Regions from separate parts of the Homo sapiens genome. Here region 1 is linked to region 2. Evidence: fine-mapped expression QTL. A gene starts in region 2. The other region holds a variant in brackets. All regions are shown on one strand. Distances are between the middles of the regions. Region 1 overlaps C15orf39 (chromosome 15 open reading frame 39). Region 2 holds the start of SCAMP5 (secretory carrier membrane protein 5).

Region 1 (5,362 bases), 220 kb after region 2:
GGGTCTGCAGGCTGACTATGTGTTCGTTTTCCAGGTGACTTTGACACTGAGGCTGGAGCTGTGTCCTCCTCAGAGCCCACTGTGGCCAGAGGTGAGCCAGAGAGCCTAGCCCTGGCTCAGAAGTCACCGGCCCCCAAGGTCAGGAAGCCAGGCAGGAAGCCACCAACCCCTGGCCCGGAGAAAGCAGAGGCAGCTGCTGGGGAAGAGTCCTGTGGTGCCTCCCCTACCCCTGCTACCAGTGCCAGCCCACCTGGCCCCACACTGAAGGCCCGCTTCCGCAGTCTGCTGGAGACCGCCTGGCTCAATGGCCTGGCTCTGCCCACCTGGGGCCACAAGTCCTCAAGACCAGACCAGCCCTCACCCTGCCCACAGCTGCTGGACAGCCAGAGCCATCACCTGTAGCACTGGTTGCCAGTGCTGTGTGTATAGCAGTCACTCTCCACCCTTCCCTTCTGCCTGCCCAGCTGCCCCGGGGCCACGAGTGGATGCTGGGGCTGTGGCTGCTCCCCTGGAGGGGTTCCATCTCTGACCCTGTGGCCCATTCAGGGTGGGCTGAAGAGCCCCTGAGCTTTTAACGTGAGGGTCTTTATTGGATAGGACTACTCCCTATTTCTTGCCTAGAGAACACACATGGGCTTTGGAGCCCGACAGACCTGGGCTTGAATCCCGGCTCGTGTTCTTGCTGCAGGACCTGGGCAAGAAACTTCACCTCTGCTGAGCCCTCATTCCCCATGTGTAAAATGGGACAACGCAACCTACCTCACAGGGTTGTTGTGGGGATGCTGCCTGATACATACCCTGTCACCATTTGGTCTCTGCTTCCTCTCTGGGACAGGGCCTAGAATTGGAGGCAGAGAACCTTCCTATAGAAAGTCTTCGTGTGTCCTAGGACTTGGCTATCGTAGAGTGGTACCTTAGGCAGTGGATGTGACTCACACTTTCAGGAGTCACCCCCCAGCATTTGGGGTTGGGTTGGCCCTACTCCAGCCTGGAGCTCCCTGAGGGAGCCTGCACTCCCTGCTCCCAATCCCCGCTACTGGTGCAGGGATGCAGCCTGGAGCTGGCGTCCTTGTTCTGGGCCTGCTGCTGCCGCCACCCCAGGAGGCCCCAGGCCTGTCCTGAATTGACATCAGTGCTTCCCTGAACTGCCTCCCCCACCCCTGGCATTATCCCAGGAAACTTATGTTTTCTAGAAGCTAAGCAGCTGCTGGGACTCAGGGACTGGTGCAGGTAGGCTGAGTGGCAGCTCAGTCCTAGAAGGTCTCTGAAGATCTGGACTGAGGACCCTGCTGCTCCCCAAGCCAGAGCCCATCAGCCAGGCCTGCTGTGAGCCACCTGCCTGTGGAGTGCTGAGCTCAACCAAAGGCTGGCAAGCTCTGGGCCTCATTTAAGGGATTCTGATGAGCCGATGGGCCCTGGAGGCAGCCCATTAAAGCATCTGGCTCGTTTTTGGAAGTGGGGCCTGTCCGTGTGTTTGGGGATGGTCGGTTTCATGTTCCGTCACTGTGTGCTTAGCCCTTTGCTCGCAGGCTGCTCTCCCTGCTCCCAGTCCAGAAGGTGCTTCTGCACCCTCGTGCAGATGGCTGTGGCTCTGTGGACCCCTCTCACACACATACTTGCTTGCTCTGGGAAAGCCCTCTCTCCTGAGACCCCGTGGGTCCTCGTGGTTGTTGGTCTGTGGGCTACTGCCTGGTGAGAAATGCTGGTCATTAGACCCAGCACGTGCCTCTCTCCCAGGGCCAGACATGTCTTTCATGGTCTGGGTAGAACTGTTACAGCCTCCCCATTGCTGGTGACCATGCATCCCACTGACCTTAGCTTGGAGGGTGGGGGGTAGTGTGCTGGGCCCACCCTCTGGAGACCCTGCCCCTGCTGGGCTCTGTTCCCCCAGAGGCTTGTTCTCAGGGCAGCTAAGGTGGCTTCCTGGGCCTGTCTTCCCACTCCCCCTGGGCCAGGGGCCAGTCCACTGGGGCTTGTTGGACCTGTGTGGCATCCTGGTGGTGGTCACTGAGCCCAGCTGCACTGTCCCTCCTGTGCCAGCCTGGCCTTAACACTAGGCTGGGATTTGGAGTGGCAGCTGCCATTGTCCCCTTCCATTGTTCATATAGGCCCAAGAAGAGCTACTGGGCTGTGAAGGGATAGGTAACCACAACACATTGTGGCTGCTGCAGTGACAACCAGGGTGGAGGGTCCTTGGGTCCCAGAAGAGGTGATACCTGAATTGGACCTTGAAGACAAATACAAAATCACATGCAAAGTGGGGTCTGGGTAGAGAGAGCCGCACGTGCAGAGTCTTGGTGAGTCTGGAACAGGAAAATCCCCAGGCGAGGC[T/G]GGAGCTCCCAGAACCAGAAGGGGCAGGAGCAGGGCTTGGAAGCCTGGCTAGAAATCCAGCAACCCAGGGACTCAGTCCCACAACCTGAAGAATGGGGATGTGAGCCACGTGGAATCATTTGACACTACTACAGGGAGGAAAGAATTGCAGTGGAGGTGGAGTTTCTGAACTCTGGGCCCCCCGGGCCCTGGGCAGCCATGGGCACCTCGTCAGCCCCATCAGTCACATCCATCTCATCGTCAGCACCTTAATGGAGTGAGCGCTTTATTCCTTTTCCTTCGGTCCTCCCTTCCCGCCGTCCTCTCCTCTCCCTCCCTCCCTTCACACCTGTGCCCCTGCTGTATGCCTGACACACATCTTACCAATGGTGACCAGGCAGAGTGAGGGCTCAGAACAGGTAGGGCTTCGCACCTGGGTTCCTCTGTGGCCCCAGAGGACTCAGAATGGTGCAGAGGCCAGGCTGGGGTGGTGGAGAGCCAGGCCTGGCTGGGGTGGTGGAGAGCCAGGCCTGGCTGGAGTGAGGTGCTGCTCTGCGACGACAGCTCTATGCAGGGAGGCCCTCTCTTCCCCTGCACCAGTCTGAGGGAAGAGACTTAACCCGGACTTGGGAGTTCTAGTCTAAGGAAGGAGATATGACAGTGTCCCAGGGACCCCCAGTCTGAGGTGGTGGGGGCAGGAACCAGACTCTGCCCAGGACTCCTAGTCTGAGGGAAGCAGCGCCCTACCTAGGGCTGCCACCCCTAGGGCAAGGAAGGAGTGAGGGCAGTGGAGTGTGCTGGCCCCGCCCCCACCCCCAAGGAGACCCGAGCAGGTCCACCTAAGAATGGGGCTCAGGTGAGACCCAGCCTCACCATGCCCCACCTGGCACCCTAGCCCAATACAAAAGGCAAAGGGCCTGGGCGGCCGGCTTTGCTGACAGGAGTGGAGCTAGCAAGGTAGTGAGTGGGAAGGATGACAGCCCTGTCTTGGGGGACTCGGAGAGTAGGAGCTGGGAAGGGGAGAGGGGCTCCCCGGACAGAGTCGTCTCATAGGGAACAGCACCTCCAGCCAGGCTCAGCACTACACCACCCCAACCTGGCCTTGGCAGGGACCCTGGTGCTGAGCCCTGCTTGTCCTGAGGCCTCATTCTGCCCTGTCGCTGCTGGCAACGCCCATGTCTGGGGTGTTGTGAAGACCCCAAAGCCCCTTCGTGACTCCAGACGCCTCTTTCCCTCTGTCATTCCTGGCCTCATTGATGTTCCTCTTCCCGTGAGTTTGTTCTCACTAAGGGGGTTGAGTCGAGCCAGCTGAGTCTTCCCTCAAACCTCCTTTGGGGATCCTCGGAGCAGGACCCGACTCTGACCTGACTGGCTGTGACTCTTCTCATCCTGCAGTTCCTGTGCCGGAGAAGGGAGGGCCGAACCCCGAGCCCAGCCTGCTGCCCCAGCTGGTGGTGGGAGGCGGGCCATGGGGACGCTTCAGCCCGTGGACATGGCCTTGCTGCTGGCTATATGCTGTGCTCTCTCCATGGGCAGCTCCCCAAGACCCCACCTCCAGACACCCCCTCAGTGGGGAGCACCCAGTGCAGCTCTTCTGGAGCCCTGTCTGCCCAGGAGATGGGAATGGGGGAATGCTGCCAAGCCCCTCCTGTCTCTCCTGCTGCACATGGACCCCTTTTCCAGGGTGGCGGGAAGCTGGGGGCCTCCTTGAGGACGCTGCTGCCTCCATGGGGACTCCAACTCTGGATGTTCTAGCTATGGCCCACTCAGAGGTGCCTGTGTCGATGAGCCCTCCACCCCTCCTGCCACAGCCCCTAGCCTCAGCCTGCCTGGCCACTGTTCCTCCCACACCCTGCCTTTGTCCAAGAGGGGCCCAGCTTCCAGGTCCCTGTGATTTCTTAGGACAATTGGAACCCAGGGTCCTAGGAAGGGGTGCTGAGCCCCTTGGAAGGACCTCAAGGGGCCTCTTCTATGATTTCTGGGTTTGTCAGGGGATCCCTTGCTTCTTCAAGAGCCTCTGATAAGGCATCTGCAGACCCTTTTCCTCCTCAGATTTGGATGATGGGACCAGGGCAGGCCCCTCCTGTATCCCCTAGCTCCTCTCCATATAATTCAGAACTTGGGGTCCCAAGCTTGGCTGCACCTCCTCAAACCCTGTAAACCTCTTAGACCCAATCCCACTACACCCTCAGAGGGGCTGGGGCTTCAGCTTGGGCCCTACTACACAGAAAGCTAGTGCTTCTCTGCCTCCTGCTGAGGCCTTGATGACTCCTCAGTGAGGCCTGGGCTCCCAGCTGCCTTAAGTAGGCAAGAGACCCTGGAGACAGCCGCTACTCAAGGAGGCCTGGGTTCTCCAACAGACCTGGGGAGCCCGCCTGCCTTTCCACAAGGCTTGGTACCTCCCTTGGGCTAGATCTGGGGTATCCCTGTCCATCCTTTGCTGCCACCCTTCTGCTTGCCACTTCCTGGCCCCGCGGACATACCAGGACCCTAGCTTCCAGAGGCCAGGTCTTCCCCAGCCCCACCCTGCCATCTGCTGCCACCCTGGCATCTCTAAGCCCAGCAGGCCACAAGAGTCCCTAGCTACTAAAAGACTGGTCCCCACCAGATCTGCCCAGTGCTTCCCCAGAGGCCAGTGAGCATGCCCAGCCCCCAGCCCTTGGTAGCCCAGCCCCTTCTGGGTGTTGCCAGCTTGGAGCTTTCTTCTAGACCTGTGGATGCTATCCTATCTGGAGTTAGCTTAGACCTCTCCCCTGGCCTCCTGGGCACTTCTGGCCCTAATCCCCTGGCAGCCTGTTTTCCAGCATTCCTGGGACTGGTGGGGAGGCCTCTGCCAGCTCAGCGGGTGCCCCTCTGCACACCAGACTTGCTTTCCTTGCAACCCCAGCAGGAAGCCTCATTCTTTGTGGCATCCAGCCCACCCCTCTGATGTGGGCCCTAAACCTCCAGCTGGCCCAGCCCTGCAGAGTAGGTGCCCAAAGGTATCTTCAGCGGTTCCTGTCATGCTGGTCTCCCCCCAGGGTCCCCTTCTGGAGCCTGGCACCATAGATCT
Region 2 (5,362 bases):
ATTTCTTAGGATGGTCATGCAGTTTAGCATTTCACTCAGACATTAAAAGTTCAGTAAATACTTCTATTTTTATTCGTTTACTGGCCTGTAACATAAATATTCTCCCAGAGACTCTTGGATGGACATGCCTCATTCAGGCATAGCTAGGCAGGGAAAGATAAGCAGCCTGGAGCTGGCCCTGTGGGACATTGATTGATTGGGTTCCTGTTCCCAGTTACTTGCTCCCTCTGCAATGGGATTAAATGTCCCCACCATTTGTCATGTGACTTATCTGGCATCCTGTATGGGTAGCATACCTCCCTGACCCCCATGAATTAATTTTGGGCTTACCCATGTGACTTGCTTTGAGTAATGGCATATGAGCAGATGTGACATTCTCCACATCTGCAAAGAAGCTTGAAATGTGTTACTGCATGGTTTGGCACAGGCTCTCTCACCCCTGCCCTCCACTACAACAAAGACATGTCTCCAGTGCCTGCCACGCAGTTTGAGCTAGCACCTTTAAATACTTTATTTATTTATTTTTTTGAGAGGAAGTCTTGGTCTGTCGCCTAGGCTGGAGTGCAGTGGCGTCATCTAGGCTCACTGCAACCTCCACCTCCTGGGTTCAAGGGATTCTTGTGCCTCAGCCTCCTGAGTAGCTGGGATTACAGGTGCACACCACCATGGCTGGCTATTTCTGTATTTTTAGCAGAGATGAAGTTTCACCATGTTGGCCAGGCTGGTCTCGAACTCCTGACCTCAAGTGATTCGCCTGCCTTGGCCTCCCAAAGTGCTGGGATTATAGGCGTGACCCACCGTGCCTGGCTTAAATACTTTATTTTTAATTTTTAAAAATTGTTTTATCCATCTATTTACAGATCATTAAATACTTACTGTGTACCAGGCAGTCCCATATGTTACATGTGTCTGCATGTATTAATTCATTTCATCCTTGCAGGAACCCTAAGACACGGGTCCCATTATCACCATCCTTATTTTACATATGTGGAAAACTAAGGTTCAGTGAGGATTAGTACCTTCTCAAATTCACACTGCAGGGAAGGGGCAAGGTCTGCCTTCTAGGTTGATATTCTTAACCACTGCTGTATGCTTCTTCTCATGGTAGGTAACCAGCAAATGCCTATTAAGTAAACGTTTGTTTAAGTGATCATTGTTCCCTTCCATTTACCTGAATAGGAAAGGTACAATCTACTGGGACAAAGGTGGGCTTCTGACTTTGGACCTGCTCACTCTTCCTACGTTAGTTGTTTATCAAATAGGAGACCCTTCTGATTCTTCTGAGTGGAGAAAAATTGTCCGTGGTCATCAGACGGGAACCCCAATATTTCCCTTGTAGGACCTACATGAACCACAAGATATCTCCTATAAATTCCATGTGGTTTCCAGACATCTTCCTTGTGGATCCCAGTGTGGACCTCAGATCTCTCTCCTAAAGGCCTATGTGAACCCCTATATCTTTCCTGAGGCCCACATGGACTCCCAACATTTTCCCTGTAGCAGCCACACTTGATAACTTCGACAGGTTCCCAGTTGTCATCTCATTGGCTGCTCTCCACAGCTCTGTAAATCAGCCTTGGCTTGCATTATAGCAGGGAGAGACAGCATGTGGGTCAACCAGGGACAGGACTGACACAGAACCCAGTTGTCCTGCCCCGAAGCCCAGGACCCTTCCTTCCTGGTTGGCCTGGTGGCAGGATGATGCTTCCTGCTCAGCCCTTCCCAGGCACCGAGGCTCTCTCCCTCCTTTTCCCCTCTGCCACACTAGTTCTTGTCTGCCTTTTTTCACTGCCACCCCCTTTTCATGCCAGCTGTGGGAGTGAGGCCCCACTCCTGGCAGGATGGAGCCAGACAATGGGCCCTTATTCTAGGCAAAGAATCCCTGCAGTGTCTCCCACCCACTGAGGCCCCCTTCCAGGCCTAGGATGGTGTGGGTGGGGGGTGGAGGGTGGGTGTATGGTGTAGGGGAAGGAGCAATTGGCTGGCAGGACAGACAGTGGCCCTGGCCCTGCCTGTAGAGATCCCACGGAGGTTTACTATGTAAACACCAATCACAATAAAATCCTGTCTTCACTCCCAGCCCATCTCTCCAAGTGGGTCTCTCTCAACCCTCCAAAGCTCTGGGTTTTTAAACATTTACCCTTGCCTCTACTCTCTCTTGGTATTCATCTCTGCATATCACTGTCTCTTTCATTCCTTTTTCTGAGTCTCTTTCTTTTTCTAAGCCTCTCCTCTCTCTCTCTCTCTCTCTCTGCTCCTTTGCGTAATTTGTCTCTATTTCTTGCCTCTTTCTTGCTTCATTATGCTCCCTTACCTATCTTATCTTTCCATGTCTTTTTTCTCTCCAGGCCTTGAGCTCTCATCTCAGTCTCTCTCTCCGTGTGTCTCTGTCTCTGTTTGCAGCTCTTCTTTCTCGTCCTCCTATGTCGTCTTTCCGTGGATCTGTGTCCTTGCCTCTCTGAATATCATCTCCGATCTTCCGTCCTCTGTTCTCTCTTTCCCCCTGCGCCTGCAGATCTGAAGGACCTTCCGCAGTCACCACACTCTCCTGCTTTCAGCTCTTTCTCACTCCTTTCTGGCACGTCCCAGAGGCTCCTGGCATAGGTATAGGAGGTTATTCTCCCCAGTTTACAGATATGGAAGCTGAGGCTCTGGCTGCTGGTGCCAGGCTCCCATCTCTGGGTCTCTTCCTTCCACCTACACGCCAGGCTCTTGTCCCTGAGGTGCCCGTCAACCACCTGATCCGGCCGGGGCCCGGGAACTAGCACCTCGGACAGCTCCTGGAAGATGCCGGGGCGGCCGGGTCGTCCTTCTCGCGAGCTCAGGAGGAGCAGCCTTAGGAGCAGAGCGGAAGTCTCGCGAGAGTGACTGCTGCAGGCAGTGGCGGCGCGGGCGCGCGCAGAGACGGCCTCGGGCGCGCGCGCGCGCGCGCGCGCTCCCCGCCCCCAGCCCCGGAGCGGCTCGCGGCCGGCTCCGCGCCGCATCGCTCGGGTGCAGCGCAGCTCAGCGCAGCGCTGCGGCCTTTCGGCAGCCGAACGGCCGCGGCAGGTGAGTCTGGGCATGAAGGCTGGGAGGAGAGCTTTGAAGGGAAGCTGGGCGCGGGGCGAGAGGTGTGGGGGTCGCTGGCTGCAGCTTTGTTCCTCCTACACTTCACCTTTGGATGCAGGAAGAAGGCCGAACTGCTGGAGAGGTGGGAGTGGAGGTGACCTTTACTGTTTGGGGCTGGGGGAGAGCGCTCAGGGCGCACCCAGGCCCCCCGAGCCCCCCAAGCCCCCCCATTCCCATCTGTGGCTCCCGCAGAGGGAACTGGGCCTTTGGGTGACGTCAGACCCTGGATCTGGAGCCTGAGCTTTGGGCCCTCCATCCCCCCCGCCAGCCCCACCTGGCGTTCCCTGGAAACCGGCCTTCTGGAGATGGCGTGCGCAGCCGGGGATGGGGGCGACTGGAAGGGGGTGCCCGTGGCTTCCTTTGGGCCTTTCCTTCCAACTAGCGCCTGCAGGTGGACCCGGGTTGACTTCCCTCACCTCCCTCGGGCGGCCGACCTTTGGATGGCGGACCTCAGCCGCCCCAGGGTTGCGAGGCGACGGGCGCGCTGGCCCAGGCCACCAGGCGGGCTCCATCAGGGCTTTGGGTGGTGAGTTGGGGGCGCCGGATTTGGCTCATTTCAACGCTGGCCGGAGGTCACGAGGATGGAGGTGAGGTGTTTGTGAACCGATCCTTGTCCTCCGCCTCGGGGAGCTCCTGGTCTGTGGGTTGGGGGAACCAAGTAGAGACTCGGACTGAGCATTCACTGTCACAGGCGGCTTAAACAAGTAATGTCCCAGCTTCCCGATGGGGAGATCAGTGAGGGCCTGGCAGACTTTCCCAGGGACACAGAGAGAAAGGGAGGCGACAGCTAGCGAATAGGAGACTTCCAGAGGTGATGGGATTTGGGTGGGAGGAGAGGCAAGAGAGGGCATTCCAGGAGAATGTATGGGCAAAGGCACAGGGATGAAAACGAGCACAGCTGTTGGGGGCTGAGCCTGGGAGCTCAGCCATGTGACTGCCCATGGGGTGGTGGAGTCTGGAGAAATTTGCAACCTGTCCCCTACATGTTCTGCCTCACGGAGCAGGGCTCTGAAAGAGGGAGATGGTTCTTGCAGGGGCATGATTGGCAGAGAGATTTTGTTTGGGGCTACACAGGTCTTGCTAACTTAGGTTTGTTCTGGGCTTGGTGAGCCTTAGGGCAAAGTCTCTAGAGCTGAGAGGGGGCTGTCTCTGGTGAATGGGCCCCTGAAAGAGGGTCTTAGGTTTAGCAAACCCCTTGGAGAGTTAGTGGGGTCCCAGGAGGGGAGTTCTAGAGAGAGACCTTGGGCTCTGTGGCTGTTTCTTTAACCGTTTCCTGAGTGGCCACCTCCAAGCAAGTTCCCCAAGTCACCTCCCCTCTCTGGGCATCTCTTTCTAGCACCTTTCTCTAGAGATGAAATAATAGGACTAAGTAGTGACCTCCCTTGAGGATGCTCCTTGTTCTAGTTTAGAGCATCCCCCCTTTCTTCTCCCTCTTCCTTTTCCTTTCCTCCCCTATCCCTCTGCCTCCCTGTCCCTATCCCCACCCCTTGCCCCCCACAGCATTTCCTTTACAGGCTGCACTTCCTTCCCTGCTGCCAGCCAGGAGTTTCGGAAGGTTTCCTGGAGGAAGTGTGATACAGCAGGTTTGACAGCAGCTTTGGGCTTAATCTGATTGGGGGAGGGCGTTAATTGCCTCCCTCCCACCCATTGGGAAAGTGTCCAAGTCTTAAGCAAGTATATGGATTGACTGTGCTCTGTGCTGGGTCCCTCCTGGAAACTCCATCCAGGAGGGAGTGAGGAGATTATGGGAGAAGACGTGAACACTTAGTGCCCAATGACTGACTCAAAATGTATGCAGCGGGATGCAGAGCAGCGATTTTTGGAAAGGCTTCCCAGAAGGGGTGGGATGTGAGAAGGTAGCAGGACTTAGAGGAGCTGATAGTGCTGCCAATTTAGGGGCACTGGAAGCAGAGGGGGCGGCTAGAGATGATCTCCTGCATGAGGCTGGGAGTGTAGGAGGCAGGTCAACCTGTGAGCAGCCAAAGGTGGTGGGAGGGAGGTTTGTAGCTGACTGGCACAAAGCCTTGAATGCCAGGCAAAGATCTGTAGGAGGCTACTGAATAGTCATCAGTAGGACAGGGACAGCATGGCCAGGAGACTGCTGTTTTCTGAGGATTATTCATAGTTCTGGGATTTCAGGGCAGAAGATGGGGCTAGGAGTGGGATGAGGGGATTGGAGGTAGAGCAGGAGGGGGAAACTTCCATCTTAGCAGGTTGGCTCTGGGCAGCAAAAAGGAATCACCATTTCTGTGCC

The links. PIP is the estimated chance that this variant, and not a neighbour inherited with it, causes the effect.
Region 1: its variant is fine-mapped to the expression of SCAMP5 in whole blood (INTERVAL, PIP 0.98).

Annotation. Positions count from the first base shown.
Region 1 is chr15:75,210,715-75,216,076 of GRCh38, forward strand. It overlaps C15orf39 (chromosome 15 open reading frame 39), which reads left to right. Exons shown (of 3, transcript NM_015492.5): 3 at 35-1,455. The coding sequence ends at 402. Among named protein-coding and RNA genes, the nearest start is that of C15orf39, 12 kb to the left of the region's middle. RefSeq lists an enhancer at 4,061-4,120. The variant T/G (reference allele first, on the strand shown) is at 2,332.
Region 2 is chr15:74,992,626-74,997,987 of GRCh38, forward strand. SCAMP5 (secretory carrier membrane protein 5) reads left to right here and starts at 2,938. Exons shown (of 7, transcript NM_138967.4): 1 at 2,938-3,048.